Regions from separate parts of the Homo sapiens genome. Here region 2 is linked to region 1. A link means that fine-mapping ties the variant in region 1 to the plasma level of a protein whose gene starts in the linked region. Region 1 holds a variant in brackets. A gene starts in the other region. All regions are shown on their reverse strands.

Evidence for each region. PIP is the chance, under the fine-mapping model, that this variant and not a neighbour inherited with it causes the effect. Protein levels are from antibody-based Olink assays in UK Biobank. Linkage for the fine-mapping came from a reference panel and not from the study's own genotypes, which makes the PIPs less certain.
Region 2: it holds the start of CRYBB2, and the variant in region 1 is fine-mapped to the plasma level of the CRYBB2 protein (UK Biobank, PIP 0.99).

Annotation. Positions count from the first base shown.
Region 1 is chr20:33,795,524-33,804,010 of GRCh38, reverse strand. It overlaps ZNF341-AS1 (ZNF341 antisense RNA 1), which reads left to right. Exons shown (of 4, transcript NR_110623.1): 2 at 6,016-6,093; 3 at 8,395-8,487. Among named protein-coding and RNA genes, the nearest start is that of ZNF341-AS1, 11 kb to the left of the region's middle. The variant G/A (reference allele first, on the strand shown) is at 4,715.
Region 2 is chr22:25,214,579-25,223,065 of GRCh38, reverse strand. CRYBB2 (crystallin beta B2) reads right to left here and starts at 3,427. Exons shown (of 6, transcript NM_000496.3): 1 at 3,400-3,427; 2 at 1,583-1,662. The coding sequence starts at 1,636.

The DNA of each region.
Region 1 (8,487 bases):
AGAAACCAGATACAAAAGCTTGTATGACTCCATATATACGAAGCTCAAAAACAGGCAAAACTAATCCATGGTGTTAGGAATCAGAATAATGGTTACCTCCAGGGAGGTACAGACCAGGAAGAGGACCCTTACAAGGTGCTAACAGGTTCAATAGCAGGATCCAGAGGTGTTCACATGGCTGTATACAAATTAATCAGTTTTTATACTTAAGACGATTGCCCTTTATGTATCTTATGTACTTTATTAAACATGTTATATTACAATTTAAAACAACATCTCCAGGCTGGGCATGGTGGCTCATGCCTGTAATCCTAGCACTTTGAGAGGCCGAGGTGGATGGATCACTTGAGCTCAGGAGTTCGAGACCAGCCTGGCCAACATGGTGAAACCCCAAGTCTACTTAAAAAATGCGAAAATGAGCCAAGCATGGTGGTGCACACCTGTAATCCCAGCCACTCAGGAGGCTGAGGCAGGAGAATCACTTGAACCCAGGAAGTGGAGGTTGCAGTGAGCCGAGATCATGCCACTGCACTCCAGCCGGGGCGACATAGCAAGACTCCATCTCAAAAATAAGTAAATAAGTAAATAAATAAATAAATAAATAAATAACATCTCTAGCTGGGCATGGCAGCTCATGCCTGTAATCTCAGCACTTTGGGAAACCAAGGTGGGAGGATTGCTTGAGGCCACAGTTCAACACCATCCTGGGCAACATAGTGAGATCTCTTCTCTAGAAAAAAATTTAAAAATTAGCCAGGCATGGTGGTGCAAGCCTGTAGTCTGGGCTACTTGGGAAGCTGAGGTGGAAAAATTGCTTGGGCCCAGGAGTTCAAAGCTACAGTGAGCTATGATGACGCCAATGCACTCCAGCCTGGGCAACAGAGGGAGACCCTGTCTCAAAAAAGAAACGAACAACAACAACAAAAATACACACACAAAGTATCTCTAATAAGAGCAGCAACAGAAGAATAGTTTTTATTTGCAAAGTGCCTTTGCACACAAAAATCCCATCTTATCTCCATCATCCCTCTAAGCCCCATGAAGTAAGCATTACTATCCACCTCCATTTTACAGTTGAGGAAACTGAGGCCCAAAGAAGTAGGAATTGACTAAAGTCACATGGTTAAAGATACCCAGCCATATATTTGTAACCTTCTTTGAAAACATTAATTATGAAATGAGGCCGGGCACGGTGGCTCACGCCTGTAATCCCAGCACTTTGGGAGGCCGAGATGGGCGGATCACCTGACGACAGGAGTTTGAGACCAGCCTCAACATGGAGAAACCCCATCTCTACTAAAAATACAAAATTAGCCAGGCGTGGTGGTGCATGCCTGTAATCCCAGCTACTCGGGAGGCTGAGGCAGGAGAATTGCTTGAACCTGGGAGGCGGAGGTTGCGGTGAGCCGAGATCACACCATCACACTCCAGTCTGGGCAACAAGAGTGAAACTCTGTCCCAAAAAATCAAAAAAATTATGAAATAAAACCTTAATTATGAAACTTGGTCTCACATAATTATACCAAATTAAATACAGAGGACTTCGCTGATTTTTAGTTGTAAAAAAGAGTTCATCCAACATTCTCTCCTGATTAAACAAAAAACAAACAAACAAAAAAACAAAACCTGAAACACTCAGCCAACTAGGAAGAGGAGAGAACTTCTCAACCTGGTAAAAGGCATCTGTGCAAAACCCACAGCTAACATCACACTTAATGGTGAAGACAAAGGCCGAAAGCTTTCCCCCTAAGATCAGGAATAAGATAAGGATGCCTACTCTCATCACTTCCAATCAACATTGTACTGAAAGTTCTTGCCAGGGCAATTAAGCAAGAAAAATAAATAAAAGGCATCCAGATTGGAAAAGCAGAGGTAAAACTATTTCTATTTGTAGATGACATGATCTCATATAGAGAAAAACCTAAAGAATACACAGAAAGCTATTAGAACTAAAATGAGTTCAGCAAAGTTCAACAATATCAACACACAAAAATCAGTTGTATTTCTGTACATTAGCAACGAGCAATATGAAAATGATATTAAGAATCATTTCCATTTACAATAGCATCAAAAATAATAAAACATTTAGCAATAAATTTAACCACGGAAAGGAAAGGCTTGTCCTCTGAAAAGTACCAAACCTTGTTGAAAGAAATCAAGGAAGACATAAATAAATGGAAACACATTCCATGTCCATGGATTAGAAGACTTAATTGTTAAGACAGCAACACTCTCCAAATTGCTCAACAGATTCAATACAAGTCTTTCAAAATCTGAGCTGCATTTTTTGCAGAAATGGACAAGTTTATCCCACACCTCATATGGAATCGCAAGAGACCCTGAATAGTCAAAACAATATTCAAAAAGAAAAATAAAGTTGAAAGATTCGCATGTCCTGATTTCAAAACTTACTGCAAAGCTACAATAAAGAAGTTTATCGATCAATTGAATAGAGTCAAGAGTACAAAAATAAACCTATACATCTATAGTCAATTGATTTTCAACAAGTGTGCTAAGACCATTAAATGGGGGAAGCATAGTCTTTTCAACAAATGGTGCTAAGACAGCTGGGTATCCAAATGCAAAGGAATGAGGCCAGGCCCTGTGGCTCATGCCTGTAATCCCAGCACGTTGGGAGGCCAAGGCAGGAGGATCGCAGGAGCCCAGGAGTTCAAGACCAGCCTAGGTAACATAGTGACACCCCAGCTATACAAAATAATAATAATAATAAATAAAATTAGCCGGGCATGGTGGTGTGTGCCTGTAGTCTCAGTTACTCAGGAGGCTAAGGTGGAAGGATCACTTGAGCCCAGGAGTTCGAGGCTGCAGTGAGCTGTGATTTCATCACTCTACTCCAGCCTGGGTGACAAAGTGAGACCCTGTCACCCAGGCTGACCCTATATGAAATGTCCAAAATAGTCAAATCCATAGAGATAGAAAGCAGATTAGTGGTTGCCAGGGTCCAGAGAGGGGGAAAAAGGAGAATGACTGCTTAATGGGTACAGGGTTTCTTTTTGGGATGACGAAAATGTTATGTAACTAGATTGTGGCGATGGTTACACAATATTGTGAATGTAATAAAAAAGAGCTGCATTGTATACTTTAGTTAAAATGGTGAGGTTTTTTTTTTTTTTTTTTTGGTAGATGGAGTCTCACTCTGTTGCCCAGGCTGGAGTGGAGTGGTGCAATCTTGGCTCACTGCAACCTCTGCCTCCCAGGTTCAAGCAATTATCCTGCCTCAGCCTCCTGAGTAGCTGAGATTACAGGTATTGCCACCACACCTGGCTAATTTTTTGCATTTTTAGTAGAGATGGGGTTTCCCTATGTTGGCCAGGGTGGTCTCAAACTCCTGACCTCAGGTGATCCGCCCGCCTCAGCATCCCAAAGTCCTGGGATTACAGGCATCAGCCACCGCACCCGACCAAAATGGTGAATTTTATGTCATGTGAATTTTATCTCAATTTTTATTTTTATTGTTTGAGACAAAGAGTCTCGCTTTGTTGCCCAGGCTGGAGTGCAGTGGCACAATCTCGGCTCACAGCAACCTCTACCACCCAGTTTCAAGTGCCCACCACTACACCTGGCTAATTTTTGTATTTTCAGTGGAGACAGGGTTTCCCCATTTTGGCCAGGCTGGTCTCGAACTCCTGACCTCAGGAGATCCGCCTACCTTGGCCTCCCAAAGTTTTGGATTACAGGCTACAAACACCACGCCCGGCCTTATCTCAATTTTTTTTTTTTTTTTTTTTTGAGACAGAGTTTCACTCTTGTTGCCCAGGCTGGAGTGCAATGGCACGATCTCGGCTCACTGCAACCTCCGCCTCCCGGGTCCCGGTTCAAGCAGTTCTCCTGCCTCAGCCTCCTGAGTAGCTGAGATTACAGGCATGCGCCACCACGCCCAGCTAATTTTTGTATTTTTAGTACAGACAGGTTTCACCATGTTGGCCAGGCTGGTCTCAAACTCCTGACCTCATGATCTGCCCACCTCAACCTCCCAAAGTGCTGGGATTACAGGCGTGAGCCACTGCGCCCGGCCCCTTATCTCAATTTTTAAAAGTGCGTTGAAGTAATGAAGAGGGAACATGTTTTGGTGCCTACCACACAGACCTAGATTAGAATTGGGGCTCTGCCATTCAGCCATGTGCTTTACCTGCCTTGGTTTTCCTGTCTGTGAAACAGAAATAACACTATATTCCTCACCAGGCCATTCTGATGATTCAGTGACAACACAGACAAAGGCCTTAGCACAGAGTATGTATTCAACAGATATTTATGAAATAATAACAACAGGAATAATAATCATTAACATCCACGGAGCTCTCACTCTGACAGCTTACATAGAATATCTCATTTATTTACTTATTTTTATTTTATTTTATTTTTTGAGACAGGGTCTCACTCTGTCACCCAGGCTGGAGTGCAGTGGCACGATCATGGCTCACTGCAACCTCTGCCTCCCAGGCTCAAGCGATCCTCCCACCTCAGCCTCCCGAGTAGCTGTGACCACAGGTGTGTGCCACCACACCCAGCTAATTTTTGTATCTTTTGTAGAGACAGGGTCTCCCTATGTTGCCCAAGCTGGTCCTAAACCGCTGGACTCAACTGATTCTCCCCCCTTGGCCTCTCAAAGTGCTGGGATTACAGGTGTCAGCCATCACGCCCAGCCAGATTATCTCATTTAATCATCCAACTATAGTTCTATGAGGTAGTTACA[G/A]ATTACAGCTGAGGAAACAGAAGCTTGGAGAGGTTGAATAACTTGCCGAAGATCACACCATTATTGAGTGGACTGGTTGGCACTTGAACCGTGAGAAAATAACAGAGAATCTTCATCAGCACTTTATGCTAAGCCAGACACTGAGCCGAGGATTTTACATGCATTACCTCATTTAGCCCACACAACAACTATATGAGGTAGGCTTTATTGTTCCCATTTTATACATTAACAGAGGTTGGACAGCTTGCCTAAGATCACACACTTGTAGGAGGCAGAGCTGGGATTCTTACTGTAAAGGCAACCAGTTTAGCCACTGTGCTATTCTGCCTACATGCAAATAATGAATGAACAGAGAGACACTCACACCTACAAACAGGTAAATAAATAAAGTGTGGTGGGCCTGGGAGCAGGTCTCACCTCCCAGGGGAGTGGGGCAAAGTAAGCGATGGGGGCAGGAAAGGCCCAACCCAGCAGAACTTGAGGGGTTAAGTGAGGAGTGAGGGGGAGGTGGGTGAAACTGTTGACCAGAAAGGACCCTACACTTGTGCTAATGGTGGGTTACAGGGCCTACTCCATACCCATTTGTCTGACCACATGCAGGCCATGCAGCAGGCCCTAGACGGCCACACAGGCTCCAGTCAATGACTGTGACTCCCTGGACTTTACCCCAGGGAAACCCTCATCCTCACCCAGGCGCAGGCCCAAGGCACAGGTAGACTAGAAGTCTACCTGCACGAGGAAGGAAAAGTCCACATCCAATCCCTTAGAATATCCTGTTGGCTCTATCATCAAAATATATCCAGAAAGCTATCATTTCTTACCATCTTCATTGCGGTTACTCTGGTCAAAGCCACCATCATCTCTTGCCTGCACTATTGCAGTAGCCTCCTGGTGGGCAGGATAATGGTCCTTCAAAGACGTCCATGTCCTCATCCCCAGAATCTCACCTTAAATGGACTTTGTAGAAGTGTTAAGGAGTTTGAAATGATGAGCTTATTGTGGATTATCCAGCTGGCCTCAATGTAATCACAAAACAGAAGCAAGAGGTTTCAGAGTCAGAGACTGGCAGGATGCTGCCCTTCTGCCTTTGAATGGAGAAAGGTGCCACAAGCCAAGGAATGCAGGTGGCTTCTAGAAACCGGAAAAGACAATGGAACAGATTCTCCCCTAGAGCCTCCGGAAGGACAAAGCCCTGCCAACACTTGATTTTAGTCCAGTGGGAACCATATCAGACTTCTGACCTCCAGAGTGATAAGATCTGTGTTGGTTTAAGCCACTAAGTTTCTGATTCTTTATTACAGAAGCAAGAGGAACCTAATACTCTTCCTCATTGGCCTTCCTGTCTCCATCTTTATTCCTTCCAGCTCATTCTCTACATGGTAAGCAGAGGTATCCTTTAAAAAATATGTGTTTGGCTGGGCACAGTGGCTCATCCCTATAATCCCAGCATTTTGGGAGGCCGAGGCAGGCGGATCACTTGAGGCCAGGAGTTCAAGACCAGCCTGGGTAACATGGTGAAACCCTATCTTTACTAAAAATACAAAAATTAGCTGGGCATGGTGGCATGCACCTGTAGTCTCAGGAGGCAGGGGCACGAGAATCGCTTGAATCTGGGAGTTGGAGGTTGCAGTGAGCTGAGATCACGCCACTGCACTCCAGCCTGGGTGACAGAGAGAGACTCTGTCTCAGGAAAAAAAAAATTATATATATATATTTTTTTGACATCTGACATATATATATACACACACATATATATATACATATATGTACACACACACACATATATATGTTTTGACACTGGACATACATATGTATGTCGGATCCAGTCACTGAATGCTCACAATCCTCCAATGGCTCTCCACGTCCCTCAAGTAAAACCCAAAGTCCTTTCAATGTCCCTCAAGTCCCTACATGATGTCATGATTTTCCTGTCACCTCCTTGCCCTCCCCCTTTCCAGTGCCTCACTCCAATCACACTGGCCCCTCTACTCTTCCTCAAACACACCAGCACCCTCCAAACTCTCAAAACCTCTACTCACCTCTACTTTTTTTCCTTCTCTATAGTCCTCGTCACCTCCTAACATCTATAACTTACTTATTTACTTTGTTGTTTATCTTCTGCTTCCTCCACAAAGGATCTCCACAAATGATTGTTTTGCTCATGATGTATCATCAAAGAACTATGCTTGGCACGTCATAGGTACTCAAGAAATATTTAATCAATAAATAAGTGGACTGAGGTAGCAGTGGCCTGGGAAGCAGCCTTGCCTTGATGAGACTTTGGACAAGACCTTTTCTCTCCCTGGGCCTGTTTATTCTCTGTGATTCTTCAAAGGACGCAAGGCCCTAAAGTTGGGTTCTGTGCCTAAGCCTACCTGAGGCACCCTCAGCTAGTAAGAAGTCACTGCCAATCCTTAGATGGAGCCTGCTCACCTCCCTGATCACCACCCTTCAGGCCCTGAAAGCCTTGTGTGTGGGGGGGTCACTTGCTGGCAGCCTTGGGGGTTGGGAGCACCCGTAGCTGCCACCTCCACTCCTTCCTCCCCAAAGGAGACAAAACTAGTCCAACCAGTTCCCTGGGCCACAGGGACACCTGCTCTGTCGACTTCCACCTGCTCTGTCGAGACTTCCAAGCCACCTGCCTTAGTCATTTGGCCCAGATATTCTCTGCTCCCTCTTTGAACAAAGGAAGATATCCTTTTATATCAGACATTACTTCCCAGGACCCTGGGTCAGTCATATCTCGGTCTACATGACAGATTCTCTGGTCTCCCTGGGGTGAGAGGAGCGGGTGGGTAAAGTGAGCCTTCTTCTCTCAAAGTGCTGTTGTTTATTCATTCGACAAATATTGATTGAACAATTCCTGGGAAGGTCTAAGCACTGTAGATACTTCAGGAACAAAACAGACAAAAGTCGATGCCTTTGTGGACCTTTTGTTTCTAATGAGGACAACAGACAATAAACAAATGTCTAATATAATGTCAAGGGTGACGTATAAAAATAAAATAGGGTAAGGAATTCGAGAATGATGGAGGTGGGGCTATGTTACACAGATTGGCCAAGGAAAACTTATCAGAGGAAATGAGTTTTTTTGTTTATTTATATATTTATTTATTTATTTTGAGACAGAGTCTCACTCCGTTGCCCAGGCTGGAGTGCAGTGGCATGATCTCAGCTCACTGCAACCTTCACCTCCCCAGTTCAAGTGATTCTCCAGCCTCAGCCTCCTGAGTAGCTGGGATTACAGGCACGCACCACCATGCTCGGCTAATTTTTTGTATTTTTTAGTAGAGACAGGGTTTTGCCACGTTGGCCAGGTTGGTCTCAATCTCCTGACCTCATGATCCACCCACCTCAGCCTGCCAGAGTTCTGGGATTACAGGTGTAAGCCACCACGCCTGGCCCAAATGTCCCAATTTTTTACATTTTCTAATTGCTTCTGGAGTATAGGAGCATAGTAGATTTGTATATATTGATCTTGCTATTATTTCAGCACCCTTGCTATTATCTCACCCTTTCCAATCCTGATACTATTTATTTCTTTTTCTTGCTCTATTATTCTGGCCAGGCCACTAATGTAATATTGGAGTCATAACAGCAGGCATCCTTGTGTCATTCCTGACACTTCACCACTGTAGTATATTTTAAATTTGTTTTTAAACGTTGGCTTACTTTTTCAGACACTGTGAATGCCAAACTGTCTGGAGGCTGCCATGAGCGGCCAATTTGTGATCTCTGCTTTACCTGAATTATTTCCGTGAATTGTGACATCA
Region 2 (8,487 bases), not on the chromosome of region 1:
ATTAATCAATAGAGTAGAGGGCAAAATTTTACAAATTATCCAATCCTTTAAGCCTGCACTGTCCCACACAGCAGCCATTAGTAACATATGGCTACTGAGCACATGTAATTAGTCCATATTATTACTTATACTGTGCTATAAGCGTAACATACACATCATATTTTGAAAATTCAGAATGGAAAAAATAATGTAAAATATCTGCCTAATAATTCTTATATTGATTATACATTAACATGCTCATCTTTTGGATATATTGGGTTTCATAAAATGTAATATGAAAATTAATTTCACCTATTTCTTTTTACTTTTTATGATGTGGCTACTAGAACATTTTGCATTACCTATGTGGCTCACATTATAGGTCTAGTGGACAGAGCTTCTTGCTTTTTTCCAAACTCACCCAGTTCATTCCCACCTCGGAGTCTTTGCGCCTGCTGTTCCTTTTGTCTGGATGCTCTCATCAACCCTGACCCCCATTTTTCATTTTTCTGTGGAGATGGGATCTCACTATGTTGCCCAGGCTGGGCTCAAACTTTTGGGTTCAAACAGTCCTCCCACCTCGGCCTGGCAAAGGCACCCCCAATTTTCATATAGCCGCTTCCTCACTTGACCCAGGTGTCTGCTCAAAGTCAGCTCCTCAGAGAGACCCTCCTGGACCACCTGAGCTAACACAACCACTGTGACTCTCAGGAGCCCCTTCCCCTAGTTTACAATTGTTTGTAGCACTTCTCACTACTGGAAATCATATATTCATTTATTTATTGTCTGTCCTTCTTCTGGAAAGTAAGCCCTAAAAGGGACAGATTGGGGTGAGCAGGTGAGGGGCTGTATCTGCTCAGGCTTCCCTGGCCCAGGAGGCACTGAGTCAGACAAAGGGGCCATTCCTGAAGGAACCTGTGCCCGGGGCTACCAAAGCAGGGAGGCACAGGAGGGCAGTCAGGTGGCCGTGCCTAGATAGAGGTTTGAGGGCAGACTGGGTGTGACAAGCCTCTGACGTTGGGATAAGATCCTGCCGCCCTTGGGTGGACAGGTGGATGAGAAATCAAAGGCGGCATTATTTGCTGGTGTTAGGTGGATGCGCACCCCAGGCCGGGTGTTAGGCTGAGCCTGGTTTCTTTGGCTCTCACAACTTCCCTGTGCAATAAATCTGACTCCTCCTTTTATAGAGATGGAACTGAGGCTCAGAGGGATCAAATAATTGGCCCGGATCACACAGCAGGTGCAGAGCCAGGACTCACACCCACCTTCCATCTACTAATCCCATCTCTGACTGAGAATGAGGGTCTGCTCCAGTTTCAGGGAGCCCTGTAGACAATAGGGTGTGGCAAAACAGGTAAGGGAGAGAGAAACTGAAGTCTCCAAAGCCAGAGGCTGGTACTGGGAATCCCAGCATGCCAGCTATGGGCTGGGGAGGGACTTTCAGTATCAGCTCCAACTGTGTGGGTAGAGGAGACTGAGTCCCAGAGAGGGGCAGGGGTCGAGAGGGGGTACCCATGAAGAAAGATGCCAAGCCCATTTTACAGAAGGGCAACTAAGTCTGGGGGAGGAGCATTGCATGCCCCCTCCTCTGAGAGGTACCCACCTTGGGGTTGAGGGACTGTGGCTTGCCCGCCTGGGTCTGGTGATCTGAGGCCATGGTGGACTGTCCTGTGCAGGAATGACCTGGAAGACATGGGAAGCAGCAGTGAGGACCTGGAGGGGCCACTGGCTTTTTCACTCTGTGGGGCCTTGAGACCACTCCCCTCTGGCCCCAAACATTCTCTTTTTCTCCTGGTTTCAGACTGTCCCAGAGCTGTGGGGTCCGTAAGCAGCTACTTCAACTTCTGTCCTTAGCTTCATTTATTTCTATCCAGGCCAGCTGCAGGAGGAGGGAAAAACGAGGTCTACTCAAAGAAAGAGAGCAGTAATAAACTAGAGCTTAAATGAGGTCCAAAGTGGGTTCCCAACACTCAACCCCAGACAATGGATACCACACAGAATATAGAATGGTCAATCCCAGAACTTCTGCCTTTATGCAGTAATTTCTTAAATAAAATTGTGTGGAACAAACAAAACCTATGCATTGGCTGTATTTGGTGGTGTGGTGGTGCCCAGTTTAGGAACTCACAAAGTTCCCTGTTCCCCTGCTCCTTCTCCCACCCTCTCCCTGGGACTCCTCTCCCCATCCTGGTACCTAGATTTCTCTTCTCTGCCACTGGTTTTACTCCCCCATTAGTGAAATCATCTGATACAGAACCCACATTACAAGAAAGAGAAGAAATGGGTGCGACGGTAGAAATCCAGGCACTGTGGCAGGCAGCAGGGTAGACCTGCCTTAGCTAGTGAGAACATCAGAAAAGCCTGGAAAATTGTCAGCCTCTTCCCCCTTCCTGCAGAAGGGGTGGTCAAACCAGGCTGTGTTTCCCCAGGGGTAAGAGAGGAAGCCTGGCCTCCCTCTTCAGAGATAACGCCAGCTTCCAGAAGCCCCTTCCACATGAAAGGCCAATACTGGATGTTTCCCAGGAGGAAGAAATGCAGTTAAGCACCTTGGCAGCCAAATCTACTGCTCTCCCGCAAGAAACCAGCCCTCTGGGCTTGTCAGAGTGCCTGAGGTCCTGCCATATCACTTCCCAGTCCTGAGTGTTCACAGACTGAAGAAGCTCAGTTGGTCCAGTTCAGGAGCAGTCTCTGCTGCCTGCCAGAATTGAGACTCTGGGCAGGTCTCATCCTCTCCCTATGCCTCAACTTCCTGTTCTATAAAATGGGGACAGTAATGATGTCTAATAATACCTGTGAACAGGTTGTGAGGATTCAATTATGTAATGTATAAAACCGGAAGCACTTGGCCGTGGTCCCAGAACACACTCAGCATGCAGCAAATGGCAGCAATTGTGGCATTATTAGAGTCATTTCTACCATGCTTTAGTGGCATTGAAATCACCTGTTGCTGGGACCTGTCACATACCTGTGGCTGCATCCTATCCCCTAGCACTCCCAGAGGCTAGGCACAGAGTGGGTGCCCCCTAATTGCAGATGTGGAGGAAAACTGACTCACCCACCTAGAAACAATGCTGAACTGTCACTGGTTTGATTCTTGCAAAACCCTCAGTTACATTCTCCTCCTCAGCGACTGGCGAAACAAGGATGCTGATAGTCTGTTTAATATTAATAATAAAGAACATTGCCCCAATGCCCACTGTGTGCCAGGCACTGTGCTGGATGATCCCCTAACTTCTCTTGAATCCTTACAATAAAGAAGGCTTTTTAACCCCCTTCCCAGTTACCAGAAAAGAAAACTGAGGCTAACAGCATTGAAGTCTCTGCCCAAAGTCACTTGTCAGAATCTGGGTGCTCCCATGCTTGCGGACAGGGGTGAGGATGAGAGAAAGAAGGGAAGACAAGCAAGAGAGGCAATCTTACCAGTGACACCAGCCCCTGCGAGTGCCGTGAAGCTCGGCCAGCGGGAGGTGGCATTTATACCTTCCCCAGAAGTGCCGGTGCCAAGATGAGTGACCGCTGTGCTCCTGCGAAAAGCAGGGTGAGAATGCTGGATTAAGCTCTCACCAAAGCTCGGGTCAGCAAATGCCCACAGACATTGTGTCTCTGCACAATAATGTCATTAGCTTTCAGATTCGGCCGCGCCAGGGCGGTCAGGCGGCTGGGCAAGGAGATGCCCGCTTTGCATGCATCAGCCGTCCGGCTGCCAGGGCCAGGGGTACGCTGGGTTCACTGGTACGGTCAGTCAGGCCGTGAGGCATGGCAGACAGAGGAACATCTCAGTGGGCCTGGGGAAGAACAAGTAAAGAAGGGTGGTTTGGCAGAGTCTGGGCTTCATTCATCTACCCATTTATTCATTCAACAAATATTTGTTGGGCATCCACTTGGTGACAATCTCTGTTCCAGGGGAGTGTCAGGAAGAGGACCTACGCCAGCCCAGGCCATTCAGAAAAGCTCCTGGGAGGTAGCGCATCCCTCAGGGATGGAGAAGAGGAAGCCTGGGAACAGGGTGGGGGGACAGTTCCAAGCAGAAAGGGTCCATATACAAGGAACCAGCATGGTGTATTTCAAGAAGACCTGAAAACAGGTTAACAAAGCTAAAGCATGACATGTGACAAATAGGGCCTGTGCCAGGTGGCCAAGGTGGGCAGGGCCTGATGTTGCAGGGCCAGGGAGGCCAATTATGGAGAGTGCATTTTATTCTCAAGGCCCCTGGCTGTTTCTCTTTCTTTTCTTTCTTTCTTTCTTTCTCTTTCTTTCTTTCTTTCTTTCTTTCTTTCTTTCTTTCTTTCTTTCTTTCTTTCTTTCTTCTCTCTCTCTCTCTCTCTCTCTCTCTCTCTCTCTCTCTCTCTCCCCTCTCTCTCTCTCTCTCTCTCTCTCTCCCCCTCTCTCTCTCTCTTTCTTTCTTTCTCTTTCTTTCTTTTGAGATGGAATCTCACTCTGTCACCCAGGCTGGAGTGCAGTGGTGTGATCTCGGCTCACTGCAACCTCTGCCTCCCAGGTTCAAGCGATTCTCCTGCCTCAGCCTCACCAGTAGCTGGGACTACAGGTGTGCGCCACCAGGTCCAGCTAAATTCTTTTTTTTGCTGTATCTTGTTAGAGACAGGGTTTTGACATGTTGCCCAGGGTGGTCTCAAACTCCTGAGCTCAGGCAATCCATCCACCTTGGCCTCCTAAAGTGCTGGGATTCCAGGCATGAGCCACTGCACCCGGCCTGTTTCTTAACCACTGTCCTAGAGTGAGTTGCTCTTAGATCCCTACCACTGGCCCCATCGCTGCCACATGGGTGCCCAGCCTTTACTCACATTTCTTTTCTATTTTTTTTTTTTTTGAGATGGAGTCTCGCTCTGTCGCCCAGGCTGGAGTGCAGTGGCACGATCTCAGCTCACTGCAAGCTCTGCCTCCCGTGTTCACACCATTCTCCTCCTTCAGCCTCCCTAGTAGCTGGGACTACAGGCGCCCGCCAACACGCCCGGCTAATTTTTTGTATTTTTAGTAGAGACGGTGTTTCACTGTGTTAGCCAGGATGGTCTCGATCTCCTGACCTCATTATCCGCCCGTCTCGGCCTCCCAAAGTGCTGGGATTACAGGCGTGAGCCACCGCGCCCGGCCTTTACTCATGTTTCTTTAGTGCACACACCTTCCTTGCAGCCCAGGCTGTGTCTTGATCCAATCTGAGGCTTGGAGACTGGGTCAAGTATACCTGCTTTCCCCTGTCTCTCATTTTCTTAATGCACATATGCATGCACACGCATGCACACACACTACACACACATGCCCCAGCCCCCTAGCTGGGCTTTTCCTTTTGCAGCACTCATCACTACCCAACATTCTGTTACTCATTTATTTTCTGTCTTTCCAATGAGAAGATAAGCACCACAAAAGCAAAGAAGTTGTCCCCCTGGTTTACCATGGTATCTCCAGAGCCCAGTGCCTGACGCATAGTAGGTACTTGTTTTAAAATCCCAGGGCTGGCCGGGCACAGCGGCTCACGCCTGTAATCCCAGCACTTTGGGAAGCCAAGCCAGGCGGATCACCTGAGGTTGGGAGCTCGAGACCTGCCTGAGCAACATGGAGAAACCCCGTCTCTACTAAAAATACAAAATTAGCCGGGCATGGTGGCACATGCCTGTAATCCCAGCTACTCGGGAGGCTGAGGCAGGAGAATCACTTGAACCCACGAGGCAGAGGATGCAGTGAGCCAAGATCATGGCATTGCACTCCAACCTAGGCAACAAGAGCAAAACTCTGTCTCAAAGAAAATAAATAAATAAATAACATAAAATAAATCCCAGGGCTGCTGTAATAAAGTGTCACAAACTAAGTGGCTTAAAAACAACAGAAATTGGGAATGTAAAATGGTGTTGCCACTACGGAAAACAGTGTGGCTGTCTCAAAAAAAAAAAAAAAATCCAACATAGAATTACCATATGAGCCAGCCATTCCACTTCTGTGCACGTGCCCCAAAGAATTGAAAGCAGGGAATTGAAGAGATATTTACACACCCATGTTCATAGCAGCATTATTCACAATAGCCGAAAGATGGAAACCACCCAAATGTCCATCAACGGATGAATGGATAAACACTATGTGGTCTATCCATACAATGGAATATTATTCAGCCTTAAAAAGAAAGGAAATTCTGACTCCAACATGATGAGGTTTGAAAATGTTATGCAAAGTGAAATAAACCAGACACAAAAGGACAAATATTGTATGATTCCACTTACATAAGTTACCTAGGGTAGGCAAATTCATGGAGACTGGAAGTAGAATAGAGGTTACTGGGGGCTGGGAGGAGCGGGGAATGGGGAGTTATTGTTTAATGGGTACAGAGTTTCTGTTTGGGATGATGGAAAAGCTGGGGATGGATAGTGGTGATGGTCCCATAACAATGCCACTGAACTGTACTCTTAAAAATGGTTAAAATGGTTAATTTTATGCTATGCAGTATTTTACCACAAAAATGTCCCCCAAAAAACCCCAGAAGTTTATTGTTGTGTAATTCTGGAGGCTGGAAGCCTGACATCAAGCTGTCAGCAGGGCCATGCCTGCTCCAGGGGTTCTAGGTGAGGGTCCTTCCTTGTCTCTCCCAGCCCTTTGTGTTTGCCGGTAATTGTTCATGTTCCTTGGATGGGAGGTGCATCACTTTAATCACGTGACTGTCTTCTCCCTGTATCTTCACATCATCTTCCCTTAGTGCATGGCTGATTCTATGTCTAAATTTCTGTGCCTATAAGGATACCAGTCATGTTGGCTTAGGTGACTTCACTAGGCAACTTCACCCTGATGACTTTGTTTCAAATTGGTTCCTTCTGTAAAGACCCTATTTCCAAATAGAAGGTCACATTCTGAGGTACTGGGGGTTAGGACTTTGGAATATCTTTTATGGACACAGGTCAGCCCATAATAGACCTCAGTTAATATTTGTTGAGTAAATGAATGGATTCAAGACCTGGCTGTGTCCTTATAAATAAGAAAGAATTCCTAACATTTCGATTGTATCAGAGCTTGACATGAGTCAGGCACTGTCCATACTCATCTTTTTTTAATCCTCCCAACAAACTCAAGATGTAAGTATTGTATTTATTGATCATTCCATTTTATAAAAGAGAAAATTGAGGCTCAGAGAGACTAAGCCACTTGCCCAAATTTGCACAGCTAGTGAGTAGTAGGACTAGGCTTTATGGATTAAGCCCTGAAACTGTCTGGTTCCATTAATTCAATCCTCACAACTATCTTTGAAGTAGGTATTATTAATGTCCCCTAATACAGATAAGGAAGCTAAGGCTCATAGAGCTTAAGTAACTTGTTCGAGGTCACACAGCCAGGAAGTGGTAGGACCAGTGCTTGAACTTACATCAGTCTGACTTCAAGATAAACGTTCTTAACTTTTAAACTATAAAGCTTCCTACTGAGCTCTGGGAATTTAGTGAAGTTTTTCTTCTCCAGGCCTCAATTTCCCCATAAGAAATGAGGTCCTTGGTGCCAAGACCAGCTCGGTCAGGGAGACCCTAACCAGTGGCGCTAGAGGAATTAAAGACACACACACAGAAATATGGAGATGTGGAATGGGAAATCAGGGGTCTCATAGCCTTCAGAGCTGAGAGCCTCGAACAGAGATTTACCCATGTATTTATTAACAGCAAGCCAGTGATAAGCATTGTTTCTATAGATTATAGATTAACTAAAAGTATTCCTTATGGGAAACAAAGGGATGGGCTGAAATAAAGGGATGGGTCTGGCTAGTTATCTGCAGCAGGAGCATATCCTTAAGGCACAGATTGCTCATGTTATTGTTTGTGGTTTAAGAACGCCTTTAAGTGATTTTCCACCATGGGCGGGCCAGGTGTTCCTTGCCCTCATTCTGGTAAACCCACAAACTTCCAGCGTGGGTATCATGGCCATCACAAACATGTCACAGTGCTGCAGAGATTTTGCTTATGGCCAGTTTTGGGGCCAGTTTATGGCCAGATTTTGGGGGCCTGTTCCCAACACTTGGTCCCTGCACCATGTATTAGGTTGGTGCAAAAGTAATCATGGGTTTTGGCGTTACTTTTGATGGGAAAAACCACATTTACTTTTGCACCAACCTATTATTCTCATTGAGGAAGCAGTCAGGGTTTTCACTGGCTGATAGGAGTGGTAAAACATGCTAGGGAGATGTTTATTATTCCTATTTTTACAGATAAGCAAAGTGAGGCTCAGAGAGGAGACTTTCTTGCCCAAAGGCTCACAGCCACGAAGTGGTAGAGCTGGGATTTGAACTCAGAGATCAGGATTTGTAGACTCCAAAACCTTCAGCCTAGCCTACTTCTCTTCTCTTACCTCAGTTTCCCACACTTGCGAAGAATTAAATATTTTGGCCCATGGACATTATAGTATTTGTAATTATACCCTTTGTAAATGAGCCAATCATGTGAAGCCCTCAGTAGCGGCTCTTACAAATATTATAGAAAGCGCTCAGTAACTATAGCTTTTATGCTATTCATTATTATTACATCTGTGTGG